Regions from separate parts of the Homo sapiens genome. Here region 2 is linked to region 1. Evidence: fine-mapped expression QTL. Tissue or cell type: sun-exposed skin. Region 1 holds a variant in brackets; the other region holds the start of a gene. All regions are shown on one strand. Distances are between the middles of the regions.

Region 1 (8,105 bases):
TACTATCTGTCATGTGATACTACACTAGAGTCAGGCTGGAATTTGGTATCTTATTGCTATAAAAAGTCTGCTTTATTAGTCTTAAGATCTCTGTTTTAATTTTTTTTTTTTTTAAGAGGGAGTTTCATGCTGTCCCCCAGGCTGGAGTGCAGTGGCACGATCTCGGCTCACTGCAAGCTCCGCCTCTCGGGTTCACGCCATTCTCCTGCCTCAGTCTCCTGAGTAGCTGGGATTACAGGCGTCTGCCACCACGCCCGGCTAATTTTTCTATTTTTAGTAGAGACGGGGTTTCACCGTGTTAGCCAGGATTGTCTCGATCTCCTGACCTTGTGATCCGCCCGCCTCGGCCTCCCAAAATGCTGAGATTTGTTTTAAGGTTAATATTGTTTAGTTGTGCCTGAATTCCAAAGGAGGAGAGTATAGTGAGGCATATCCGACCTCCTCTTCTTATCATGGCCTGAACTAGTTTTTTCAGGTTTACTTTGGAATTCCCTTGGCCAAGAGCAAAGGAGTCCATCAGTCAGCTGAGGGGCTTATAATATTATTTGGGGTTTACGTTGTTTATTGTCTCCTTGTACCCTGGGTTGATCTGTCCACCATAGCATTGGTGGTAGGGCTACCCTGCCTCACTATGGCAGCAGCTAGCAGGCCTGCAGACTCCTCCGCAGGGAATGTGCTGAAATGTCATGATCTCCACTATGCCACAAAGATGAGACTAAAAGGCAATGTCTTTCATTCTCCCATGGCCACTCTAGGTTGGTGTTGAAGCATGTGTGAAACCAGTCCCTGGGCTCTTGATAAGCATACCCCCTTCATGTTTGGCCTTGCTCTCTCTCTCTCTGGAGTTTCTGTCTTTTGCCCCCACCCCTTCATACCCAGCCCAAGTTTCAGCCTAAAGTAGGGGACTCAGGACCCTTGTATTTGGTGTCTTTCTACCTCCCCTACACTTGTTAAAATAGCACAGGCTTTACAGCCACATGATCCATGCTCTAACCAGCGCTCTCCTATGTTTTAGCTGTGTGACCTGCACAAGTTGCTCAACTTCTCTGTGCCTTTGTTATTTTCGATGTAAAATAGTAGGTGCAGCTGGAGAGGAACAGATTCACTGGATGAGAGTGTAATGTTAAAAGCGCCATGCAATATGAACATAATTTTTTATTATTTTAGGTGGCCAATTTTCAGAAATGGGGTACATAGCTTTCCCTTCCTTTCTCAATTTTTCTTACCCCCCACGTTTATTATAATTGAGTATTACAATAGTTAAGGATAAAAGGCTTTTACTTTTTTGAGACAGGTTCTCCTCTGGCTATGCTGCTCATGCTGCAGTACTGTGCCTATTCACAGGTGCAATAATATTATGTGCCCTACAGCCTCAAACTTGTAAACCAAAAGTAAATTCTAAGCCCCATCCCCAACCAATTGAGTGGACTCCTCCTCTGGGCCAAGGGCATTCTAAAGTAAACCTAAAACGCTAGTTCAGGCATGATGGGAATGGGTGGGAAGACAGGCCTCATTACCCCCTCCTCCCGTTGGAATTCAGGCACAGCTGACCAGCATTAACGTTAAAATAGAGACCTGAAGACTCTTTGTAGCAATATTACAGCTAGCAGGCCCTGAAAGAAATACGTATTTTACCTCCAAAATGTATTTCTTTGACATATTCTGAAATGGCCCTGCAAAGCTGTCTCGAGGGGAAAATCAACATTCTGTAGAGTTGATTTTCATCCTTTTCCAGGTCTTTTTCCAGATCCAGGAGAGAATTAACTAAGAGTCTAGTATCCAGTCTGATAAGAAGCATTTATAATCAATTCTCTCTGAAGCCTGCCACCTGGAGGCTTCATCTGCATAAGAAGAACCTTGGTCTCCACAACCTCTTATCTTAACCCACACAATCCCTTCAATTGATTCTAGATCTTTAGATAAACTTTCAACAAATTGCTATTCAGAAAATCTTTGAATCCACCTATGATCTGGAAGCCCCCCAGCCCTCTGAGTAGTCCCACCTTTCCGTACTGAACCAATATACATCTTACCTGCATTCATCGAAATCTTAAGTCTCCCTAAAATGTACAACACCAAGCTATAGCCCAACCACCTTGAGCACATGTTCTCGTGATCTCCTGGGTTCTGTCATGGGCCATCGTCATGCATAGTTGGCTTAGAATAAAACTCTTCAAATATTTTACAGAGTTGGATTCTTTTCATCAACAAACTCTTGGGCTCAAGTGATCTTCCCACCTTAGCCTCCCAGGCAGCTGGAACTATAGGCACATGCCATTGTACCTAACTACAGATAAAAGAGTTTAGAACACTCAACTAACAAGGCCATTCTGACCCTGAAATTCTAGTGAAATTGAACTTAACGCTGATCCAAAATGTAATACTATTCCCCAGGAATTTTTTTTTTAAACTTCTGGATCTTTTTGGTTAACATCGTAACCACTGGCTTAGATTTCCAGTTTCTGCAGAATTCTCATTTTTAATTTATAATATGATAATGAAGTATATTTTAAAATTAATTTTTTGATAAACTATAATAATATATTATCATGGCAGACACAGTGATGTTATATGTACACAGTGTGGAATCATGGAATCAAACTAATTACCATATCCATCACCATAAATACACATCATTTATAACATCTCCTCATTCCCCCCCACCCACCAGCCCCTGGTAACCACCACTCTACTCTCCGCTTCTATGAGTTTGATTTAGATCCCACATGGAAATGAAAACGTGCATTTTTTGTCTTTCTGTACCTGGCTTATTTCTCTTAACATAAGGTCCTCCAGGTTCATCCTTGTTGTTGCTAGTAACAGAATTTCATTCTTTTTAAAGGCATTTTTTGAGTGGCATTCCATTGTGTATATATAGCACATTTTCCTTATCTATTCATCTGTTAATGGACAGTTAGCTTGATTCCACATCTTGGCCATCATGAATAGTGCTGTGATAAACAGGAGTACAGATATCTCTTCGAGATACTGATTAAATTCCCCTAGAATTTATAGCCAGTAGTGGGACTGCTGATCTTCCTTTCTTTTTCAACAGCAATCTGTCTCCAAAAAATACCCAACCTCCCACTTGTGCTCAAGGATAGCTGATACTGCTTTAATGAGGAACGACTATTTTTCTTGCCACAATTTGAGGCAAAGGAAGCACACACACTGAAATTAAGGTCCAAATGACTGATCCTAGGCTCATATCCAAGTGCAGATTTTGACAGAGAAAGGTGAGAGGACAAACAGAGCAAGTGCGAGGAGGAACTCGGGCAGGAGGGAGGGAGGTTGTGTAGAAAGGAGGATTAGCAGTGCCAAAGCTTTCCTCTTTTGCCGGTGCTTAGAGCTGGAAAACTGCAGGTAGGGCTGAGATGGATCCTGTTTGTCAGCGTCTGTTCTGTACTTTGCAATTTGACAGCAGGCTTCCCAGCAGACATGTGTCACCTTGCCTCCGCATTTTCACCCCCACACCTAGCACACCCAGGAAAGGGCAGGGATGTGGGAGGTGAAGCTAGGGCCATGTACTCCGGGGTAAACTTCAACCTCACAGAAGGAGCCAGGCTAGGAGGACCCTGAAGGCCCTGGGTTCAGTTCCGCAGGGCGGAGAGACTGCTTTCCTGGGCCATTCCACTAGTTCCCGGATCTGGAAAGCTCCTTGTAAAGTGTTTCCATAATTTTCATTTTCTCCCCATGTGTCCTTTGCCTTTTACAAAATTACTTAAGGGCAGCTATAATGTACTAAAAAAGATACCAAAAGCCCCATTTTCTTATCAAATGCCCATTTTTTTCTGCCACTCAGAATTAATAACAGTGAAAGTCTTGTCATAATTTATCCAACTTCTTTTTAAATAACCGTTCTATTTAAATGAGGAAGGCAATCATGCTTGCATCTTCTGAGAAACAGTGTGGTTAAGGGTGGCGTCATTTGATTGTCACACAGCAGAGTCCTGAAGGACATTTTATAGCTTTTCAAGAATACCCACATTTTTGTCAGGGTCTTGCAGGCAGAGAAGGTTGGGTTCTCTGCAAAGGAGATCAGGAAGTCCCCATGATGCTACACATGCGAGCCAGGCCAGACATTCCCCTTTCCACAAAGTACCAACCCTTCTGGGCTGGTGCGTTTGGACTCAAATGTCCCTATATGCACTCCTCATATTTGCTTCCGTCCTCTGAACTCCGGTGGCAATTAGTCTGAATAAACCTCTTGTAATTTCTGGATAATGATTTTATAATTACCTTGAATCATTGAAGTGTGTTGCTATTTCTTATCATTTAACTACTCTCGTACTACTTTAGAGTGTCTAATAAATGTTGATTTAATCTCTTAAAACAGTGGCTTCTAATGATTAACATTCCCCACCCACAGTAAAGGCTTCTGCCTCCAGCACTGCCTTCTCTCTCTAGAATTAGATCCTCCTAGCAACTACCCACTCCCACTGCTCATTGGATGCTGTCTTCTAGAATGATGGGTTTCCAGCCATTCATCCTTGTGTTTCCCCACAGCTGGTGCTAACAGTTCATTCCCTCAAGGTGTACCAAATGGAATGAACCTATTAAATCCCTAACTCTACTAACAGATCATACCAAACCAGTAACGTGCCCTTTCTTAACTTCCATTTATATTCCTGTTTGGGGGTCATTCTGTGTTGCTGACCTCAGTCCGTTCAGCCTGCATACTTAAAAGTACGTAACTGGGCCTTCTCTCTTCTTCCCCCAACCCCACCATGTGAGGACACAGCAAGAAGGCTGCCATCTACAAGCTAGAAAGTGATCCTTGACTGAGTGTGGTGGCTCA[T/C]GCCTGTAATCCCAGCACTTCGGTCTCAGAAAAATAAAAGTGATCCTTCACCAAAAACAGAACATGCTGGAACCTTGGACTTGGATTTCTAGCCTCCAGAACTGTAAGAAAATAAATTTTTGTTGCTTAAGCAAAAAAAAAAAAAAAAAAAGAAAAAGAAATCTTCAAAAAAGTACATAACTGGGTGGGGTGAGCTTGTTTGTACTTCAGAAGATCCCCTCTGAATCATAAATAAGTAATAATTAGTTACTGAGGTCATTTATCAAAAGACAATGCTTTAGATATCTGTTCTTACAGGACAGTGAAGTATTAGAAAATCATGGGAAAAAGAAAACCACCGGCAAATATTTTTCCATTTTAAAATGCCACTGACTTTAAGACATGCTAGTTTTGAGAAAAAAAAGAAAAATCCTGAAATAGAATATGCACTTCAGAAATGAAATGCAAAAAAATGCTGTCTCTTAGAAATGAGATAATTCAACTACTAAGCAAATAAAATAAACCTGTAACATTCCTCCAATGAGATGGCCATGGACCTGTTTTCTCTGTTGACTGTGTAAAAACACTCTGGGGACACAGGTGAGAAAATCCATGTCAGGCATATGGAGGGTTAACTTGGAGGAATGATGGCCCACTGACACCATACCTGTGGGTCATCATGCTGCTTTTACAAATTGCCCAGTGGAAAGCATAAATTGAATGTTTAAAAACTACTAAACTTGCGTATACGGTTGTGAGGAAAAACGTCCATTCAGTCCTGCCAGAACACATTAATTTTATCTCGAGTGTAGCCACGGGGATCCTCGCACTTCTACTATCTGTATCCAGTGAGGTTGCAACAACCTCACCATCCATCAAGCTCTCTGTAGAAGGTGGAAGGTTGAGAGAAGTCCCCTGAGGAAGAGTGACATTGCGCTGGGTGACTCAGTCTGACGCAAGCCACAAATGAGGCAGAACAGGATGCTGAGGCTGAGGGGAAGAGCTTGTGCAAGGCCTCCCCTCATGCTAACTGCGCAGCAGCCCATAAGATGCGGGCCATAATGGTCGTTATGATTCTCCTCCCCCACCAGTCTTTTATTTAGGTTCATTTTTGCTTGTGGCAAAAAATACTCTCTTCATGGTTCTCAGATGTTAATGAATTGAATGTTCACCGTCCATCTTCCTGAATTGCTTCACAAAAGAATCTTACTTTAAAGGTGGAAAGTCCTCAAGGTCATAGCTTTCTAATCTATTCCTGAAAAGTCATTTCCATTTTGTGCTAGTTAAAAATGGAATGCATTTAGGATTTCATCTTATTGATGAAATTGACCTTAAAAAATGGTCAATTTTGATTTGTAGCTCGGAGTGAACTGGGCAATACAAAAAAGGACTATTTTGTACCGTAAGAAATAGATGTGAGGAAGGCACGATGATTTCCAGTATCCTTCACTGAGGTCAATTTTTTTTTCACAGAAAACTAAAATGTTCCTGTTCTATTTCCTTTAATTTACTCAGAATACTGATTCCCAAGATTTTAAAAGTGACTTACACTTTAATAGAATCTCAACCTATTTAATTTGTATAGTGCTTTTGTGATTCTCAAGCAAAATTCTACTTCTTCAACTTTTACTTTGGATTCATGGAATACATGTGCAGGTTGTTACTTGTGTATACTGCGTGATGCTGAGGTTTGGAGTACCAATGATCCCATCACCCAGATACCGAGCACAGTGTCCAATAGGTTTTCAACCCTTGCCCCACTCCTTCCTCTAGGAATCCCAGGTATCTATTATTACCATCTTTATGTCCATGAGTAGCCAATGTTTAGTTCCCATTTGTGAGAACATGGGGCATTTGTTTTTTTGTTCCTGGGTTAATTTGTTGTTTGTAACAGGATGATGGCCTCCAGCTAACTCTATAAGGACAAGCTTGCTTTCTTTTATATGGCTGTGTCCTACACGATTTTAGATCTATCATCTATCCTCCCGGCATAATTGGTTAGGGAGTTTGTCTCATTATTCTTCCCAGCCATATGACCTTGTGCAAAGATCAAACTTTGGGCAAAGAGTTCAATTCAAACATCAGCTATTACTAGTGTAGCTGGGCCACCCTACCCCACTGGAATTATATGTCTTGGGTATCACTCAGTTTTAGTACCTTTAACCTGGACACGTTACCCAGATACAATTTCAAGGTAAACATGCCTGCCTGTCTTCCTAGTTTTTTTTTTTTTTTTTTGCCCAGCAGGAGTGCAGTGGCACAATCGCAGCTTCGAAATGCTAGACTTAAGCAATCCTCCTGAGTAGCTGGGACTACAGGCATGCGCCACTGCACCCTGCTGATTTTTAAATTTTTGGTAGAGATGGGTTTTTTTGTTGTGCAGAGTGGTCTTGAACTCCTGGGCTCAAGCAATCCTCCTGCCTCAGCCTCCCGAAGTGTTGGGATTACAGGCATGAGCCACCACGCCTGCAGGTTTTAACATGTTAAGCAAAGCACACACCCGCAGCAAGTGGGAAATCCAGCTTCAAGAGAATTTCCATTTCTTACCATCTTTTTCCACTTTGTCCATCTCTCCCTGCAGCCCTCCCCCATCAAGCATCCATTGTATGAAATGCCCATACTACCTTTTTCTGTGTGCTTTACCTACTATGCTTACTCTTGAAAATTTCCTCCTGGGCCATCTTAGAAACTTATTATTCAGTCTGCATTTCCATTTTGCTTACCTTTCTGTGACACTCATCCAATGGCCTATGGCCGTGTTTACACGGATTTGATATGCTTTAGAAGGCAATTACTTTTATTCATCATTGTCTCCCCTGGGCCCAGCTAGCATGGCACCTGTTACATAAAAAATTCATGTTTTCTGACTGTTCAGTAGATGCCATTTTAAGCAACAACTCAAAGGGCCTTTTTTCTCGGGATTATTTTAAAACATGTTTCATTTATCCTCTAGTATTTCAGACGATGTCAGAAAATGAAAAATGGACATTTACTTTTTTACCTAAAGCCTATCACTTTGCAGGTCATTACTCTTCGCTGTGAATGAGGAAAAAAAAAAACAAAAACTCTGTGGTATGTTAAGAGCCAAGAAACTAGTGATTTTTTTCTATTACCATTTACAACTGGTATGTTTTACAAACGATCACATTTTATATATCAGCTTACCTTTTATATGTTATTTATTTATTTATCTTTTTGAGACGGAGTCTTGCTCTGTTGCCAGGCTGGAGTGCAGTGGCGCGATCTTGGCTCACAGCAACCTCCGCCTCCTTGTCTCAAGCGATTCTCCCGCCTCAGCCTCTCAAGTACCTGGGACTACAGATGCACA
Region 2 (8,103 bases), 37 kb before region 1:
AATGATAGACTGTTCACTTATGGAAGCTATTAAAATGATAGTTACCCAAACTTTACAATTAATGAGGAAAATGCTTATGTTATAACTTAAGTGCAAATAGGATATAGGAAGCATATGTTTAGTATAATCACAACTATGCCAAACAAACAGAAAAAAACAAAACAAAACTCTATAATGACAAAAAGGACTAGAAGGAAATACACCAAAATTTAACAATGTCTCAAGTTGGAGACAGCGAGGGTGATTTTGAAAACTCTAGTTTCTCTTACTTTTCTACACATTTCACAATTCTACACTGAACATGTATAATGGAAAAAAGCAAATGAACATTCCTTTGGAATAAAAGCGAATGTTGGAGGGAGCAGGTGGTGACAGAGAGGTTCTCCACAGGGCAGTGAGCCATGGCCAGGCCACAGGGCAGCCCCAGGGGTAGGCTATGGGCCTGGGTGGGAAAATCAGCCCCTCTAGCAGCTCCTCACTTACCTCGGGAACCAGGGCAACATAAGGCTCCTGGATGAACCTGGGCGCCTCATCATTGGCATCGGTCACCAGGATCACGACTTTTTCGGCCACCTGAGAAGGGGCAGAGGGGTCAAGAGCCAGTGCAATGAGACCTTCTGAAGGATGAATGGATAGCGACCTCTATCACTCCAATGTACACGTCTCTGCCCATCCCTCCTCTCTCTCTCTCTCTCTCTCTCTTCCTTCTTTTATTCATTAATGCAATAAACATTAAGCAGCCTCTTAGTGCCAAACACTGTGTTTCATCCTGGAGGCAGAAGACTGTCTGATGATGTGTTATTTTGCAGTAGTCATGGTGGCTGGGATATCAGGGCAAAGATCAGCATATTAAAAAACACTTTATGATCTCCTCAAGGTGATAGCAGCAGTATGCCAGGCACTGAGGGCGGGGCCCCTGCACTGCACCAGCGCACACACATGGCCTGTGTAAATGCATCCGATGGGGTTGAGAGTTCCTGGGCTGTGGTGGTGGAGAGCAGGTGGGCTTCTTAGAGGAGTGAGAATTAATCCATGAGGCAGTTTGCCAGAAGGAAAGAGGTAGAAAGTTGTGCCAGGAAGAAGGGGTTGTATGTGCAAAGGCAAAGAGGAGTGAAATGCATGGTGAGCTGAGGATGAAAGTAGATTTATGGCTAGATTATGGCCTGGGTGGGGTGGATGTGAGAGAAAAGGCAGTGAGGCAGATGGTGCCCAACGAGGAGTCCTGGAACACCAGGCAGAAGCTTAATTTTCATCCCGCCAGTGGCGGAGGCCAGTTGTTAGTGCTTTCCCAGCCTCAGAGTGGGCAGATCTGACTGTTCCATAGTGACAACTTCAGAGGCAGTTGGGGTCGGAGAGCCTGGAGGCCAGTGAGCCCCTGGGGTTTGTTGAGTTATCCAGTGAGCACTGATGATCGCTGAGAGAAAGTGGTTGCTGTGGGGTGTTGAGCTCAGGTGACTGAGCAGGAGGGCAAGACCTGGGTGGGGGAAGCAGATGGGGAGGGCAAGTTTGAGGAGATGCTGTGGAATGTGGGTTAGACCCATTAGAAGCTCAGCTCAGAGAGCCTGATCTCTCCATTCCTTCTTTTCCTTCCTTCCCCCTGGCCTTGCTGCAGCCCTCTCCTGTGGGCACTTTGGGCAGGTCTTGCTGGGCCCTAGCTTAAACTTGCAGAAAAGCCCCCATGAAGGCTTGGGGAGGAATCGTGCCAGCCTCACCCTTCTCAGGCCCAAATACTGCAGGCTGCCAGGGACTGCCTTGGACGTGCACTCACCAGATTCAGGCCATCAGAAATGCTGATGATGGCTTCAATCTCATCTTCCCTCTGTGAAGCACAGGGACTGAGTGAGTGTCCAGGAGTCTGACACGCCATAGGACCCCTGTGGCTGGATGGAGCTCTCCCTGCCCCACGCACCCATCAGAGGAGGTCTGGGCGTGCCAATAGATCCCTGGAGCAGGGTAAGTGGTGGTGACAGCATGCCTGGCAGAGTAGAAAGCTGCCTCCCCCCATGCTTGAGACCTTATTTTGGGACTTTTGTGTCCGGGGTTCTTATAAACTCAGAGACCCAGAGGGTCTGTTGGGGCTCCAACAGAAAATACTCTCCTGCCACAGTGAGGCGAGATGTCGACCTTAGTGTGCTCAAGGTCCCATAAAGACTTTTCCTCTTTCTTTTCCCTTTTCTCCCCTTTTCTCTCCACACCTCTCCACATTCCAGGGCTCTGCAGAGGCTCACATCCATGGTGTCTCAGTGCTCCCAGGATATGGTGAGACCTCAATGGGGAAGGGTATCGGATGTTGCCAGATCCCGCGGGTGCCAGGGAGTGGGGTACTGGCAGCACAGTCAGGCTCCACTGCTGTGTCCCCACAGCAGTCCCTGAGACCTCCCTTTCCTTTCTCTACCCTGTCCTGCAGCTAGTGGAGGCTGTCACGAGCTGGCAGCATCCCCACAGCTGAGGTCCAGTTAGCCACACACCAGGCTGCTATGCGGTCTGAAAAAGCCCATGCCCTGTTGCCTGCAAGTTCTCAAGTGTGTAGAGTGGAGGAGCTCTGCCAAACTCAGACTCACTGCCAACCACCCTTTCCAGCCTTGACCTGCTCTGAGTTCCTGTGCCTCTCCCAGGACAGGCTTGAAAAATCACTTTGTGAGGTTTCTTTCAGAAACCTCAAAGTGCAAACGGATTTATTTTTAATGGAACATGCTTAAAAGATTAGCAGGGCTGGCAGGTGCTCGTTAAAGGAGCCCACTCTTCGCTCTGTGTGAAGGAGGAGCATGAAAGTAAAGCCCACTCTGCTGATGGGAAGTGGCCCAGAGATCTCACAGAGTGGATGTGCCTGGGGTGTGCCCCCTCATCCCCTACTCTGTGGAGAGGTTCTAACCAATGTGCTCCAGGGGAACTTCAGCCCACCGAGGTCTGTCTACAGGCAGTGGCCCCGCAGCACTCCCCACACCTCCCCATACCTCTCTGTCCAGCTCTTCAACCAGGGTGATGTTTCCAAAAGTGGGGTCAACAGAAAAGACGCTTCTAGTGCTGGGGTCAAAGCTGATGTGGTAGGAGATGGGGTCTCCCTCAGGGTCTGTCCCATTCAGGGTGTATACGTGAGAGCCTGGAAGGAAACACAGTGGAGAGACATAGAATCTGAGACCCAACTTTTCCTAAAAGTGGCAGATGCTCAGGACCAACGATTCAGCTGTTTATAAAGTGACTATTCAACTCAGTGCCAAAGGTACTGCCCTGAACTTGGTGCTCATTGCTGGCCTCACCCCTGCTGGCTGCTTCCCTCTTTGTATGTTTATTCTTCACAGCGGGTGGTTGTGATGATCAGCCACTTTCCAGATTGTAATCTATAACACGGGTTACAGAGCAGGTGCAGGTCTGCCGTGCCTAACTGTAGTGCCTATGTTCTGCTCAGCCTGGTAATAACTCCTCTCTCAGGATCCAAGATTGAGGGGCTCCTGGGTACAGGGAAGGGGAAATGGGAGCAGCCATTAAGGCAGGAGGGGTGACCCACAGTGCACCACTGTCCCCGATGCCTGGACCTGGTTCTGCAGGGATTTCTGAGCCAGGTGCCTACTTTGCTCTGCTCTCCCTTTTCCCCGGGTTCCCACTACCCACAAAGTGAGGGAGAAGGAGTGTGAAATCTCCCCTTTCTCCTCCCCTCTCTCTGCATATCTCAGCAAGTTGGATGTTCTTAGGCCGTTTTAAAGCCTAGAGACCTGGGGCTCAGGGAGGTAAATACATTTGTTCAAGGTCACACAGCCATAAGGGGCAGCTGTAGCTGCCTGCCTCGCGGGGCGACCCTGTCTGTGGGGGGGAGCCCTGGTCTCCAGGACTGGCCAGACTTAAGTCGCCATGGCAGCAATGACCTTCTTTCCTGCCATTGCCCAGGGGAATTCGGAGAGCAAACAAGGAGCCCCCGGGCGCGCGCAGCAACTTGGGTGGTGCCTGGGGCACTTTGTGTTCTAAGTCTGCCTGCACCCCTCAGGGAGACCTATCGGGAGCAGGTGCCAGGGCTACTCACCTACAGGGGTGTCCTCTGGGAGGCTGAACAGAGCCATGTTTCCGTTGGTGCTGCCGACCCCGTTGTCGAAGAAGTGCGGGGCGAAGTTGGCCTGAGCTGGAAAAAGAACACAGAACAGACGGACACCCAGGCAAAGGACACCCAGACACCAGGAGGGAGCTTCGCACCAGCGCGGTCCCGCGTCAGGCCCAGCTACTGGGCAGGAGGGCGCTCCGCCTCCCCAACCCAAGTGCACCGAGGGACCCCACTGGGGCGCCGCCCAGAGGATGCCCCTGACCCCCACTCCGCCCCCGGTGGGCTCGGGCTTGTCAGGGACACGTAGCATGTGGGCGCTTAGAACCCAGGTAGCAATCCAACCCCTCCTTCATCAATGGGCAGATTGCACCCGCGCTCGGAGAGGGGCAGTGCCCCAGCCCAGCCAAGGTCAAGCCGCGAGTCAGGGCACTATCTCCTGCCCCACGCAGCATCGGAGCTGCCACCAAGCCTACAGCTCTGGTTCCCAGCAAGCGGAGAGCAGCGGGGGTCCGGGCGCCAAACCCTGGGGCCCTAGGATGCCAGCTCTGGAGAAGCGCCCCGGAGCTCCCCACTACTCCGCTACCCCACTCCCCACTACCGAATGGGCCAGGAAGATGGAAGGACTTCTCCGCTCCCGTCCACCAGCCCGAGTCCCACTCTGGAAGTGGTCCAGGACCATGTCCCTCTGGCCACCTGGGTGACGCCAGCGCCCATCTCCCTCGCCATCCACGCGGCCAGCGCGGCCCAGCGGCCACTCACCCAAGCAGAGGCGCAGCAGCCCCAGGGCCAGGGCGGCCCACCGGCAGCGCCTCATGTCTCCGCCGGCGCGGAGTGTCGCCTGCCGCCGCCGAGACCGGGCGCAGGGGCACGGAGCATGCCCTGGGCCCGCGGGGAGGGCAGAGACCACAATGGGGGTAGCGGCGACTGCAGCCGCGGCGGGAGGGGGCACGGGGCGGGAGCGGCGGGTGGCGTGAGGGCGCTAAGAGGATGACACGGCTCGGATCTGCTCCTGCCGGCCGCCTGACGAGACCAATTAGCGGCGCAGAGCGGAGCGACAGGCTCCCAGCCGCGGGCGGGGGCAGGAGGGCGTGACAAGAGGACTCCCCGCCCGCCACGCCCCCTTTGCCGGCGGCCCCCAGTCCTGGACAGGAGGACACCATGGGGGACAGGAGTGTCTTTCCCCCAAGTTGTCCTGAGGCTTTCCCAGGGTACTTAAGTCCTGGTGGGGCTTGGGCTTCGCAGTTTTCTTTTCTCATCAACTTCCTCTGTGACTTTCAGGGGCTTAGCTGTCTTCTCTGAGCTAAGCATTCCAGAAGAAAAGTTAGTGGAGCGGCCGAGAGGGCCTTGCCTTAGCAGTCTAAGCAGGTTCTATAAGCCGCGTGAGACCAAAGGCAAAGAGAAAGGGTGATGGATGGGCAGCAGATGGTAAGGGGTTATCAGGACCCCCTCTCTGTGATCTCAACCCATTCCTGCCCTGTTCCCCAGGCTGGACCACCTCTCCCAAAGGGTCTGATCTGTGTGGTGGGCAGCAGGGAGGACCCTCAGGTGTCCACCAGGGTGAGAGGCAGTTCTGCTCCCCATTCCCAGTCAGTGCCCAGTCTGGGACCATGAAGGGGCAGCTGACCCACTCTTCAAACCTTCCAAGGAAGAGTGAAGGGCCTGAAGGCAGAGTTAAGCCCCATCTTAGGACAGACTTGCACAGAGCTGGCCAAGATAGATCTGAACTGCCCGAGAGGCACGAGATCTCATTCCTAGAGGGTATTTACACAAAGCAAGGCACTGCTATTGGGGTCCTGGATGCTGATAACTTGAAGACACAGGTAAGCCCAGGAACCTTTTTGGCTGCTGGTAAAGCTCCTTGGGCTTCCTCGTTCTCCTGCTCTGACACTGGAGGGTGCTTGGAAATGCAGCCTGTTTTCCTTTTCCTGGTTGGGCCATTTATGGGGGTACAGGTCACTTCAAGCCCAAGCCAGGCCACTTCCCAGGATGCCCTTGGGTGGATGTGTTCTCAGATAGAGGAGATCCCTCCTCTGTGTGCTCCTGGGAGAGGTCTCCACAGCTGAGGACTCAGCATTCCCCCCCTCCCCCTGCCAGGGGCCTTTGAGGGAACAGAGCACCCCCCATCCCTTGGTCTAGCCCTACATGATCTACTGTGAGCAAGGGTCAGGGATTTGCAGAGAAGAAGGAAGATGAATCAATGGTTTTAGAATGTGCAGCAGTTTTCAGGCCTAATTGGCCGAAACCCTTGTTGAGTCTCCTTAGGCTTGGCTCTTTTGCTGAAAAGACACACTTTAAATTGCACAGATGTTCTGAATCTGCCTCCCAAAGTGCTGGGACAAAGCTAAGGCAAGTATTCTGCAAGTCCCATATAGGGATGTGGAGACTGAGTCTTGCCGTGGATTTCCCAGGAGCCAGAGGCAGAGCCAAGGTTTCCTGGAGTAGATGTCTTGGTGGGCCGAGAAAAGCCAGCTCTCCCTGGGTCCTGTTAGCCCTGCTCCTCACCAATCTAGGGCCGTTGATTTCTCTCTCCTCAGTTCCCTCAGTCAACAGCCATGCACTGGAGAGGGAAGGGGAAGGAGTAGCCTACATGCCATGTGCTGTATGTGTGCTTATGTATATTTGCCCATATTATCTTATTTGACCTGCACTGCTCTCCCAATGTGATTTTCTCTGCTTTGCAGAGGAGGGAGATTTCCTCATTGGCTGTGTACGACCAAGCAAGTGACTTATTCTCTCTGAGGTGCAGAGCTTGGATTCACATACAGTTTGGGTTGGCTCCAAAGAAGGTTCAAACTCTTTTTTTTTTTGAGCTGGAGTCTCACTCGGTCACCCAGGCTGGAGTGCAATGGCGGATCTCAGCTCACTGCAACCTCTGTCTCCTAGGTTCAAGTGATTCTCCTGCCTCAGCCTTTCAAATATTGGCATTACAGGTGCACGCCACCATGCCCAGCAAATTTTTTTTCTTTTTTTTTTTTTTGGTAGAGACGGGGTTTCACCATGTTGGCCAGGCTAGTCTTGAACTCCTGACCTCAGGTGATCCACCCATCTTGGCCTCCCAAAGTGCTGGGATTACAGGCATGAGCCACTGTGCCCGCCTGGTTCAAACCCTTTTCATGGCAGAAGAAGATGATCTTGAATCTACTGAAGCTTCAGCTTCTAGGCCTCTCACTCACACATCACACATTCCTTCCAGAGCCCCAGTTTTGTATTTTACTTTGTATTTTCTTCTTCTTTCTTTTTAGAGATAGGGTGTTATTATGTTGCCCAGGCTGGCCCTGAACTCTAGGGATCAAAAGACTCTCCTGCCTCAGCCTCCTGAGCAGCTGAGAATACAGGCAGCACCATTACATCTGACTTCTATTCTGATGTAGAAGGGTCTGAGAAAGACCCTCCACACCCCCCACTCCAACTCCTGCTGCTTCCTTCAGCTGTTTTAGGTTCAGATCTGCTAGTGTAACCAGCTGCCCAAATTTGCCTGGGACTGAGGGGTTTCCAGGGATGCAGGACTTTCAATGCTAAAACCAGCAAAGCCTAAGGTAACCTGGTATTTGGCGGTCACCCTAGATACAACCCTGTCCTCAAATCACCTAAGGACCTGGGAAAACAGCAGCTCTTTATGGTGGTTCTCACCATGGACCCTGATCTTGACCTTGCAGTATGGAAGGTCTTGGCTTGTCAAGGCTCAGTAGGACTCATCTGCCATGAGACATGGGACCTGACCCTCACTTACAGAGCCTGGGCAGCCTCAGGCACACCAGTCACACTGTCTTCCAAATGCCCGTCACCCCTGAAGGGTGGTGAGCTCCCTGTCTCCTGGGACCTCCTTGCCATGGTACCTGCAGTGCAGTACCACATAGTGTCATCTTAAAGTCAGCTTCTGACAGCTCTTCTTCTGGTGGATTTATGGCAGCTTCTCCAGCTATTGATAAGCGAGAATTGGCGTGTCAGCTGTTAGCCTGGGCATGCATGTGTTGTAAGTCTGCCAATATGCCAACTCAGGCTCACGTGCACATCCATGTCTTTGCCTTTATCTGATCTACCTGAGTGTGCCAACCCACAGTCCCTTGCCCATG

Evidence for each region. PIP is the estimated chance that this variant, and not a neighbour inherited with it, causes the effect.
Region 2: CDHR1 starts here. The variant in region 1 is fine-mapped to the expression of CDHR1 in sun-exposed skin (GTEx, PIP 0.95).

Annotation. Positions count from the first base shown.
Region 1 is chr10:84,154,589-84,162,693 of GRCh38, reverse strand. No RefSeq gene overlaps it. Among named protein-coding and RNA genes, the nearest start is that of CERNA2, 13 kb to the left of the region's middle. RefSeq lists enhancers at 244-959, 1,292-1,793, 6,869-7,382. The variant T/C (reference allele first, on the strand shown) is at 4,799.
Region 2 is chr10:84,191,502-84,199,604 of GRCh38, reverse strand. CDHR1 (cadherin related family member 1) reads right to left here and starts at 5,068. Exons shown (of 17, transcript NM_033100.4): 1 at 4,790-5,068; 2 at 4,016-4,111; 3 at 2,955-3,100; 4 at 1,769-1,819; 5 at 484-573. The coding sequence starts at 4,844. RefSeq lists silencers at 4,853-4,972, 5,043-5,172.